Homo sapiens: one gene and its partners. The protein of the gene in region 1 purifies or fractionates together with the protein of each later gene. This does not show direct contact. Each region holds a gene or a part of one and is shown in the gene's direction. Other genes may lie near its edges. The genes, in order: OGDH, MCEE and SCFD1.

Region 1 (3,653 bases):
GTGGCGACACTGAAGGGAAAAAGGTAAGGCCCAGAGAGAGGCGTGCAAGGCAGATCGTCAAGGCCCCATGTTCCAGCATGGAGTTCCGCTCACCAACATAACCCAGAGCCCTGGGTGCATCTAGACTTTAAAAAAATATTTAAAGTCGGCCGGGCGCAGTGTCTCACGCCTGTAATCCCAGCACTTTGGGAGGCCGAGGTGGGCAGATCACCTGAGTTCGGGAGTTGGAGACCAGCCTGACCAACATGGAGAAACTCCATCTCTACTAAAAATACAAAATTAGCTGGGCGTGGTGGCGCGCGCCTGTAATCCCAGCTACTCAGGAGGCTGAGGCAGGAGAATCGCTTGAACCCGGGAGGTGGAGGTTGCAGTGAGCCGAGATTACGCCATTGCACTCCAGCCTGGGCCAACAAGAGCGAAACTCTGTCTCAAAGAAAAAAATAAATAAATAAAAAATATATGTATATGTATGTATGTGTGTGTGTGTGTATATATATATATATATATATATATATTTAAAATCAACTTTTAAAGAATAGCAATAGTAAAACAGTCCTGCTTACAGTGTTCCTTTTCCTGAAGTTGTAATTGTCAGAACTATGTGGGAAGTTTGCTTTTGTCTTCACCAAATCTGTTAAGGAGCCAGGTTGCAGTTATTCTGAATGGACAGAGATGTTTTCACTGAAAAGGAGGGGAGTCTGAGAGTCTCTGTAAGGAAAAAGTGTAGGTGAGCCTGAAGGAGAAATTGTAGAACTGAGACTTGTCAGGAGAGTCATGCTTGCTGTGATTAGAGGCGGGAGTTCACGGGCTGGTAGGAGACGGAGGAGGGCACAGACTGCAGGCAGGTGGGGTCCTGCTTCACCATTTCTGGTCATGTGACTGAGTGTTGGGGGTTGACTCGCCTGCCTGCTTGTGTAGAAATAGTCTCAACAGATTGTAACAATTTGCCCTTATTTAACTTCAAGATAGAATCTTGTCTGACAAATTTTATATTTCCTATTAATGATGACCTAAAAACCAAATAATCAGAAAAAAAATCAAATATTTGTAATGTCTTATGTATGGGTTCTGGGAAACATATAAAGAAGGCATCACCACTTTTCTCTCCAGAGCCTCCTGTTCTTTTTAGAAAAAAGGTCGTGTGTAAAGAAGCAAATAGCACATACACGGCATGATAGGAAACTGGAGTTAGCCGTGAAGAGCTTTGGAAGAGGTGTGCAGGGGTGTGGGCTAGAGTTGGACCAAGGATAGAAGGCACACCCCTTAGTAGCAGAGCAGGTAGTTGTCATTTTATTTGAGAAGTGGCAGGATTTAGGGAGGTGGGAAGGGAAGAATGTTTTCTGGAGATGAAAGGTAAGAGCAAAGATGTAGGGGGAATTGGGGACACAGAGCAGGGAGGGGCCGGCCTCCTAGTTGTGCCCTGGAAAGAAGTCAGGTCTATGTTAGAAGTGGAACCAATTGGCCAGGTGCGGTGGCTCACGCCTGTAATCCCAGCACTTTGGGAGGCTGAGGCGGGTGGATCACCTGAGGTCAGGAGTTCGAGACCATCCTGGCTAACACAGTGAAACCCCATCTCTACTAAAAATACAAAAAAAAAATTAGCCGGGCATGGTGGCACACGCCTGTAGTCTCAGCTACTCAGGAGGCTGAGGCAGGAGAATTGCTTGAACCTGGGAGGCGGAGGTTGCAGTGAGCTGAGATCACGCCACTGCACTCCAGCCTGGGTGACAGAGGGAGACTCCTTCTCAAAGGAAAAAAAAAAAAAAAAGAAGTGGAACCAATTATTACTTTACCAGGCTCTATAATTTTAAATACTGTAAATCTACTACTGTCATGCTTACAGTGTTAGAGGAAGGGAAACTGTCATCATAGGTAATGGAGCCTGGGCTGGGGAAGTGATTCCCGCATCGATCAATGCTCACTGTAAAGAACGAGTATGACCCACAGGGACGCAGAGGTCATTCCATGGCTTCAAGCTCATGGGCCAGGACAGTGCCACAGAAACTTCAACTAGATGCAAAGAGGCCTTAGCTCTGGGGAACCTGCAGCCCCCGCAGGCAGTAACAACACTGGGTGTCTGGGATGGCCTGGGCTAAGGTGAGATCGGCATGGGGAGATCAGCATTGTGATGACCAGTGCCTCTGGTATTTGCACCCTCCTTGGCTAGGACACTCGCCCAGGCATTTGGGCTGAGTAGTGGAATGAGATTACCGAAAACTTTGGGTGATTCCCACATTCATAGATTGTGGACAGAAATCCACTCTAGCAGTACTCACCTCATAATGCTGGAAATTTCCCAAAAAGGAATGAAATCATTAGAGTAAAAGCAATAGAGTATATTTTAAACTGCTACAGATGGTCACACTGATTGGTCCCTTCATGAGATGCCAGGACAGGAGAGGCTGGTTAGTCCCTGATTTGCTCATAAGTCTGCATGCAGCTGAGTCCGAACTGTCAGTCCCTTTGTTTTCCAGTCTACACAAACCTTGTTGTCACAAGTTTGCCCTTGCCCCAATGTGGATAGCTGCCAGGCCCTCTTTCTGAGCCTCCTCGTCACCTTGCCTCAAGCCCTCACATGTCCCCAGCAGGGTCAGTGTGGGGTCATTGCAGGCTCAGCCATCTGCCTGTTCTTCTTACTCCTCTTGACACCCATAGGACATGATTTGATTTCTATTAAATCCAGAAACTCAGGGAGCTGGAGTGTGTGTTATGTAACTCTCAGCATTTTTCGTGAAGAATTACATACTTTCTGTAAGTGCAGCTGAGGTCATCCCATAACCTCATGCATGATTGTGAAACAGACCTGATTTGGCTCAGTGCTAATATGGCCTTTGGGATCTTTGTTCATGAAAGCATTTCCTCAGTGCAGCAATGCAACCTGCTGCAAAGGGAGAACCCGCTCCTGCCAGAGGTATGGCTCAGGCTGCCAGACACAAGGAGATTCCCCATGTGTCCTGGCTGTGATTTCAGCAGACAGTTACCACAGTGCAGTATGGCATGGTAGTCGCAGTACAACATCACCAGGATGATCAAGAGCAAATACCATGACAAGAGGAAGACTGACTACAGGTGCCCTGTCAGCAGAAGACAGACTGGACAGAAAAGTATCTGCGGGAAGAAACAACACACTATCGGGATCAGGAAAGCATGAAATGTCAGTGACTCAAAACCAATGGCTTTTACACTCAGGCAGCCTGGGCATCGTAGCAAAGCTGCACACCTCCAAGGGGGCCCCGTAAGCAAACCAGATCCTTACGTCCACATGCTGCTATCCTAGTGAGCACCTGCCACATCCACCAAAAGGCAGGACACCTGCAGTTCTGTTTTTAAAAATTCTAGGTTTTGTCCCTGACACACAAATCATGGGTCTTAACCAAGGATGACTCAGCACAGCGCTGAGGACCAGGGTAATCACAAGAACTCAGGGAGGTGCAGGTCAGTAGGCCCGTAGGCTGAGGACACAGCAGGAGAGGGTGTGTTGTATATCACCTTGGCTAGCCACAGCGTCCAGGTTTTTTTTGCTAAACACCCATCTAGATGGCATTTTGTAAAGATAAGATTAACGTTTAAACCAGTAGATTTTGAGTAAAGTAGAAGACCTTGCACAATGTGAGTGGGTTTCATCCAGTCAGTTCAAGGCCTTCGAGAAAAAA
Region 2 (3,753 bases), on another chromosome or scaffold:
CTACCTTAACTGATCAATCGACCTTGTGACATTCTTCTTCTGGACAATAAGTCTTATGATCTCCCCACCATGTACCTTGTGACCCCGTCCTCCTCTGCTAATAGATAACCACCTTTTACTGTAATTTTCCATTACCTACCCAACTCCTATAAAGCAACCCCTTCCCCATCACCATTAGTTGACTCTCTTTTCGGACTCAGCCCACTTGCACCCAAGTGAATAAACAGCCTTGTGGCTCACACAAAGCCTGTTTTAGTGGTCTCTTCACACAGACGCGCTTGACAGGTGTAGCATGGGAAAAGGACTTCAGGGGATGGCAGAGTATAGGTGGGTAGAAACAACAATTCTATTAAACAGACACAACAGCTCTATTTTGGACGCAGTGAATTTGAGATGCTTGACAGTACCAAAATTTTAAAAATCGTTAAAAGTTGTACAGTGTGGATATCCCAGTTGTGTGCTACGGAATTCAAACTAAGCTCAGTCTGTAGTTGCTGTGAGCTGGGAACTCAGGGAAAGGTTGGGGTTTGAAACATAAATGAGTAATAATTTCATAGATCACATTTTAAATTCTTCAACAAAATACATATAAAACGCTTGTGTTGGGAAGAGACATGGAAGTTCTATTTCTGAAGAAGCTTAGTCATGGGGGGTGGACAGACAAGTGACAAGTTCGTACTTTCAATAAAGTATGCTAAGCGCTAAGTGCTTTGAGAGCACATAGGAGGAAGGAGAAACCAACAGTCTGTGTGTAGAGGGATGGGGGCGTAAGAAGCCCAAGGGAAGCTTCTAGGTGTTAACAATTGAGGTTAGAGTGATTTCAGTAACACTCAACTGAGAGATCCATCTATACAAATTTTAACAGTTTTTAAAATTTTGATAGCCTAGGAAAGCATAAACTCTGAAATTTGGGGAAAAGCGATTTTACGTTTCCCCTTACCTTCCCCCAGCTCCACAATTTGCCGGAGGCCTGCAACCCGCGTCCACGTGAGACCCCGGTCGCACCCCGAGCCCGGGATCTGCGCACTTACGTGAGGAAGCACTCGGGCCGACCCGTGGCTTTGCCGACTTCCGTCAGACACCGCTCCAGGGTCCGTCGACGCCAGACCTGCGGCGCCATGGCTGTCAGCAACTCCCGACACAATGCAGCATGCAAGGGAAGGGAGCCGCCCGGAAACCGCGCGGCAAAGATGCGCCCAGCGCAACTTGGATTTCAGAGCCGAAAGTTCCGCGGCGCACAGGTTCCGGACTCGCCCTCAGCCAGAGCCAATGGCAGCGCGAGCGCTTTCGCAGGAGGGTGGGAAACAAAAATCTCCATGGTCAGCCCAAACGCCTTTCAACTCTCTCCAAACTTCGTTTTGTATTTTTCAGGGGCCCACAAAGGGTGACCCGTCCTGGCCTTACGTTTCTGTTTTAGCTAAAGTAGGCCCGTTGTAGCAGGAAAGCAGCGACCTTCGCCACGCCCCTGACCTTTCTGTCCCCGCCCCCTCTGCCTCCCGCCCCGCCCTCTGCCGCGCGTCTCTCAACCTCCGTGGCTAGTCTTGACGTGGCGGGTTGCTTTCCAAAATGGCGCGGGTGCTGAAGGCTGCAGCCGCGAATGCCGTAGGTGAATACCGGGCACCGGCGACCTTCGCCATGGGACAGGGAGCGTGGGAACGGCGGTCGGGGGCGGAGGAGGCCTCGGCGTGGCCAAAGCACCTTGATCTAATGTCCTCCCCCGGGGGCGCGTTCCACAGCAGCTGCTGTCACTTAGGCAGAGGGTGCCTTCCAGAAGCGCCACCGCTTAGTAGCGGGGATTGCCTTGTGCATGAGTCCCATTTCCATCCGAGAGCTGTGCGCCTTGGGCTCTGCACCTTCCAGTATGTGGGCGGGAGAGTCGAGGGAACTTGCCCGGCAGGTCAGGCAGGGCAGGGACAGAAGTAAATAGAAGCGGATCGGTAAGTTATTTTACCGCGCACCAATAAAGAGACTGGGGAGAAACCAGAAAGGAGAGCACGTTCCGTAAAAACAACAACTACTAGTCGGCCGAACTCCAAGCGTGACCAGCTTTCTGTTGGGAACACTCAAAGGTCAGTGGTGTAAAGAATACAAAAGGAGTGGTTTTTCCACGTGCACTAATATATTTATCGCGTACACAGATAAAAGCATGTGGATTTGGAAACTTTCTTGAGTTCTCTCCCCCTTCATTTTTTTTAAAATATGTACATAGAATCAGTTATGACAGAAATAACTGTAATAATTGTCACGTTTTCTGACTCACTTTCTCCTCTTTTTATCCTTTTTTTTTTTCTCTTCCTCCTTTTATGAGAGGGCAAGTATTTCCCTTAATCTGAGATTCCCTATTAGGAAGAAGGTGCCAAGTGGTAATGCCCCAGAGTTACTCCGGGACATTCGTGATAAATCCTTCTAGCACCAGAGCCCACATTCTTAACCGTAAGGCATACCTTCCTCTTAGGTGATACACAAGATAGGAACGTAAAACTATAAATAAATGAATATTTGGGAAAAGGCATTTTTATGTCTATTTTTAGAACTGCACACTTTAATGATTGACAGTTTGGGAAAAAGTATGACTTCCAACAGGTCATATACATACTGCAAGAACTCAATACAGATAAAGGTGCATGTTTGTTTTGTACTTACATACACATCTTGGCATAAAGGAAAAATGAAGACAGTGTATTCCAAAGATTGCCTTTGATTTGTCCTATTAAGATACTTGAAGCTTAATGTCTCCACTTGTGTGTGTGTGTGTGTGGTTGAATATACATAAAGTAAAATTTACCTTTTTTTTTTTTTTTGAGACAGAGTCTCACTCTGTCGCCCAGGCTGGAGTGCAGTGGCGTTAGCTCACTGCAACCTCTGCCTCCCAGGTTCAAGCCATTCTTCCGCCTCAGCCTCCCGAGTAGCTGGGATTACAGGCACCCGGCACCACGCCCGGCTAATTTTTTGCATTTTTAGTGGAGACGAGATTTCACCATGTTGGCCAGGCTGGTTTGGAACTCCTGGCCTCAGGTGATCTGCCCACCTCGTCTTCCCAAAGTGCTGGGATTACAGGCGTGAGCCCGTCTCTACTAAAAATACAAAAATTAGCCGGGCGTGGTAGCACACGCCTGTTATCCCGGGTACTCGGGAGGCTGAGGCAGGATAATCGCTTGAACCCGGGAGGCGGAGGTTGGCGTGAGCCAAGATCGCGCCACTGCACTCCAGCCTGGGCAACCAAAGCGAAACTCCGTCTCAGAAAAAAAAAAAAAATTGCTTTTTAAGACTGAATAATATTCCATTGTGTGTGTATACCACATTTTGTTTATCCATTCGTCTCTTGATAGACATTTGGGTTATCCCCACCTTTTGGCTATTGTAATACAGCTATGAACGTGGGTGTACAAATACTTCTGAATTCCCGCTTCTTTGGGGGTGTGTATACTCATAAGTGGAATTGCTGGATTACATGGTAATTCTATGTTATGGCCCCTCTTTTAAGGAACATAAAACTTCGCCGAAAAACAAAAGCACAGAAAAATCAGAGTGAACACGTAGAAAAGTTCTGAAAATGGAAATTGAACCTGTTAGGTGGGAGACAAGAATGACCAACTTACATGACTGCATAGGTTTACTTTCATTAATCGTCTGTAAATGGGCTAACAGAAATGTAATCTGTTTACTTACTGTAATGAATAAAAAAAATTGATCATAGTTTGAAACAAGTTGAAGATATATATATGGTGCTGTGAAATTAACTGGTCAAATGTT
Region 3 (3,653 bases), on another chromosome or scaffold:
AGCAAATCCAACAGTACATCAAAAAGCTTATCCACCACAAACAAGTTGGCTTCATCCCTGGGATGCAAGGCTGGTTCAACATATGCAAATCAATAAACATAATCCATCATATAAACAGAACCAAAGACAAAAACCACATGATTATCTCAATAGATGCAGAAGAGGCCTTCGACAAAATTCAACAGCCCTTCATGCTAAAACCTCTCAATAAATTAGGTATTGATGGAACGTATCTCAAAATAATAAGACCTATTTATGACAAACCTACAGCCAATATCATACTGAATGGGCAAAAACTGGAAGCATTCCCTTTGAAAACTGGCACAAGACAGGGATGCCCTCTCTCACCACTCTTATTCAACATAGTGTTGGAAGTTCTGGCCAGGGCAGTCAGGCAAGAGAAAGAAATAAAGGGTATTCAATTAGGAAAAGAGGAAGTCAAATTGTCCCTGTTGGTAGATGACATGATTGTATATTTAGAAAACCCTATTGTCTCAGCCCAGAATCTCCTTAAGCTGATAAGCAACTTCAGCAAAGTCTCAGGATACAAAATCAATGTGCAAAAATCACAAGCATTCTTATACGCAAATAACAGACAAAGAGCCAAATCCTGAGTGAACTCCCATTCACAATTGCTACAAAGAGAATAAAATACCTAGGAATTCAACTTACAAGGGATGTGAAGGACCTCTTCAAGGAGAACTACAAACCACTGCTCAACGAAATAAAAGAGGACACAAACAAATGGAAGAACATTCCATGCTCATGGATAGGAAGAATCAATATCGTGAAAACGGCCATACTGCCCAAGGTAATTTATAGATTCAATGCCATCCCCATCAAGCTACCAATGACTTTCTTCACAGAATTGGAAAAAAACTAAAGTTCATATGGAACCAAAAAAGAGCCCGCATTGCCAAGTCAATCCTAAGCAAAAAGAACAAAGCTGGAGGCATCACACTACCTGACTTCAAACTATACTACAAGGCTACAGTAACGAAAACAGCATGGTACTGGTACCAAAACAGAGATATAGACCAGTGGAACAGAACAGAGGCCTCAGAAATAACACCACACATCTGCAACCATCTGATCTTTGACAAACCTGACAAAAACAAGAAATGGGGAATGGGTTCCCTATTTAATAAATGGTGCTGGGAAAACTGGCTAGCCATATGTAGAAAGCTGAAACTGGATCACTTCCTTAAACCTTATACAAAAATTAATTCAAGATGGATTAAAGACTTAAATGTTAGACCTAAAACCATAAAAACCCTAGAAGAAAACCTAGGCAATACCATTCAGGACATAGGCATGGGCAAGGACTTCATGACTAAAACACCAAAAGCAATGGCAACAAAAGCCAAAATAGACAAATGGGATCTAATTAAACTAAAGAGCTTCTGCACAGCAAAAGAAACTACCATCGGAGTGAACAGGCGGCCTACAGAATGGGAGAAAATTTTTACAATCTACCCATCTGACAAAGGGCTAATAACCAGAATCTACAAAGAACGTAAACAAATTTACAAGAAAAAAATCAAACAACCCCATCAAAAAGTGAGCGAAGGATATGAACAGACACTTTTCAAAAGAAGACATTTATGCAGCCAAAAGACACATGAAAAAATGCTCATCGTCACTGGTCATCAGAGAAATGCAAATGAAAACCACAATGAGATACCATCTCACACCAGTTAAAATGGTGATCAGTAAAAATTCAGGAAACAACAGGTGCTGGAGAGGCTGTGGAGAAATAGGAACGCTTTTACACTGTTGGTGGGAGTGTAGACTAGTTCAACCATTGTGGAAGACAGTGTGGTGATTCCTTAAGGATCTAGAACTAGAAATACCATTTGACCCAGCAATCCCATTACTGGGTATGTAGACATCTGTAATTTTTCAAATCCTGCTTTTTATGTCAAAGAGAAAAATGGCAAGGAAATAAACTATTATAAAAGATTTATTTGAGAAAGTTACAAGGTTTATGTTAAGGACCTAGAGTCAGTATTGATAACCTTGTTTTATCTAAAGGAGACTGAATTGCATTCAGTATATTTAATTTGCTAAGACCTAGAATAATCATTAATTCAAAATATATACAGATACCTTAGAACTAAGATAATTATATTTCAGTCATGCTGGATAATTTCTCCATACTGTGTCTTCCTTCTTCATCAATCATTTACTTGTTGATAGTCATGTTTTATCTTTCACTATTCTTTAGTTGGCATTAAACCATAAAATGCTGCTATTTGTGAGGGAACCCATAGATGTAATGCAAGAAGTTGGGGGAAAGAAAAAAGATACTTACTTTTATTTTTGCCTAATGGTTTTTGTGGGTTTGGTTTGGTTTGGTTTTGGGTTTTGGGGGGTTTTTTGGTTTTTTTTACAGAAAAGGTACAAAAATCAAGCCTCACGTGAATAAAATTAGTCCTAGGCAAGAAAGTTTAGCCACTACTGGCCTGACTCTTAAAGTTTGTGTGAAAGAGGGGCATCACTTATTATTATAGCATCTATTGTAATTTTTAAAATTGCAGTTCATCACTCAAGTGACACATCAGAATGTTGACTCTCTAAGAGTTTAAAAATATTTAAGATAACATTTGTTACTGGAAATGACCAAGCATCAGGAGGCCTGGTTGCATAAGTTGATTTAGCCAAACATTGGACTACTGTGTAGTTATGATAAAGATGAAGTAAATGTACATATACAGATACAGAAAGAGCTGTAAAATGTATTATTAGATGAAAAAAGATATAACATGTACCCTGTAATCCCATTTTAAAAAATAAAATTAAGAGGATGTGTATGTGCTATTATATGCATCAATGTTTTTCTAGAAGGATACACAAGCATATTGACATGTTTTTCTCTTTTTCTTGTTTGAAATTTTAATATACATCTAATACTTTCATTAAAATACAGAAACAAAATTACATTTGTATGTAACAAAAGATTGGGAGGAGATGTTTTAAATTTCAGATCTATATTTTGTCCTTGGAAACATTAGAAAGGGCAACAAGATTCTATTTTTATTAGACTTAGAAAACAGTTGTTTAACACAAGATTACTTTTTCCTAGGATTTCCATTTAAACAGGGTTAATTTGGAAGAATCTTCAGGAGTGGAAAACTCTCCAGCTGGTGCTAGACCAAAGAGAAAAAACAAGAAGTCTTATGATTTAACTCCGGTTGATAAATTTTGGCAAAAACATAAAGGAAGGTAAGCAAAATATCAATAAGTAAAAGATTCATTTTTTTAAAGAGAAATTAAGGTGTCATCCACCTTAATGAATTTGAGAAAAAAAAGGGTCATGTAGGTTCGTTCACCCAATGAGTGGGGGCTGTAATTAGATAGTCTGTAGATATTTGTCTTTATTTCTCCATTTCTCACTGATTCCTAAGTTGTTTTTTGTTCATTGTTGTTTTATAGGGACCGCTTCTCCTTTCAATGAGATCATCCTATACAGATAGTCTTTTTCAATTTTGTTGCTGTCTCCACTGACTCTATAAGACCATCTCTGCCTTTCATTTAAATTGGCTTTTGTGATTTTGGGGGTGATTTTTTCCTTTTTGTTACATGTTGCCCTCATGTAAACCTTGTTTTAGATACTTGTGGAGAGAGTACCTAAGCCTAAAAGCCTAGAAATT

Evidence for each region.
Region 2: the proteins of OGDH (region 1) and MCEE purify together in Homo sapiens (co-immunoprecipitation; one large-scale study listed by IntAct). This does not show direct contact.
Region 3: the proteins of OGDH (region 1) and SCFD1 fractionate together in Homo sapiens (co-fractionation; one large-scale study listed by BioGRID). This does not show direct contact.

The regions. Positions count from the first base shown.
Region 1 is NC_000007.14:44,676,127-44,679,779, forward strand, and holds part of OGDH (2-oxoglutarate dehydrogenase complex component E1 isoform 1 precursor), read left to right. Parts: coding exon 1-23; coding exon of another isoform or gene 24-101; exon of another isoform or gene 102-456; intron 457-3,653. UniProt on the Homo sapiens protein: 2-oxoglutarate dehydrogenase (E1o) component of the 2-oxoglutarate dehydrogenase complex (OGDHC). Participates in the first step, rate limiting for the overall conversion of 2-oxoglutarate to succinyl-CoA and CO(2) catalyzed by the whole OGDHC.
Region 2 is NC_000002.12:71,128,033-71,131,785, reverse strand, and holds the start of MCEE (methylmalonyl-CoA epimerase, mitochondrial precursor), read left to right. Parts: upstream 1-1,556; 5' UTR 1,557-1,566; coding exon 1,567-1,606; intron 1,607-3,753. Other genes in the region: MPHOSPH10 (U3 small nucleolar ribonucleoprotein protein MPP10), read right to left, coding at 1,032-1,120. UniProt on the Homo sapiens protein: Methylmalonyl-CoA epimerase involved in propionyl-CoA metabolism.
Region 3 is NC_000014.9:30,667,171-30,670,823, forward strand, and holds part of SCFD1 (sec1 family domain-containing protein 1), read left to right. Parts: intron 1-3,085; coding exon 3,086-3,225; intron 3,226-3,653. UniProt on the Homo sapiens protein: Plays a role in SNARE-pin assembly and Golgi-to-ER retrograde transport via its interaction with COG4. Involved in vesicular transport between the endoplasmic reticulum and the Golgi.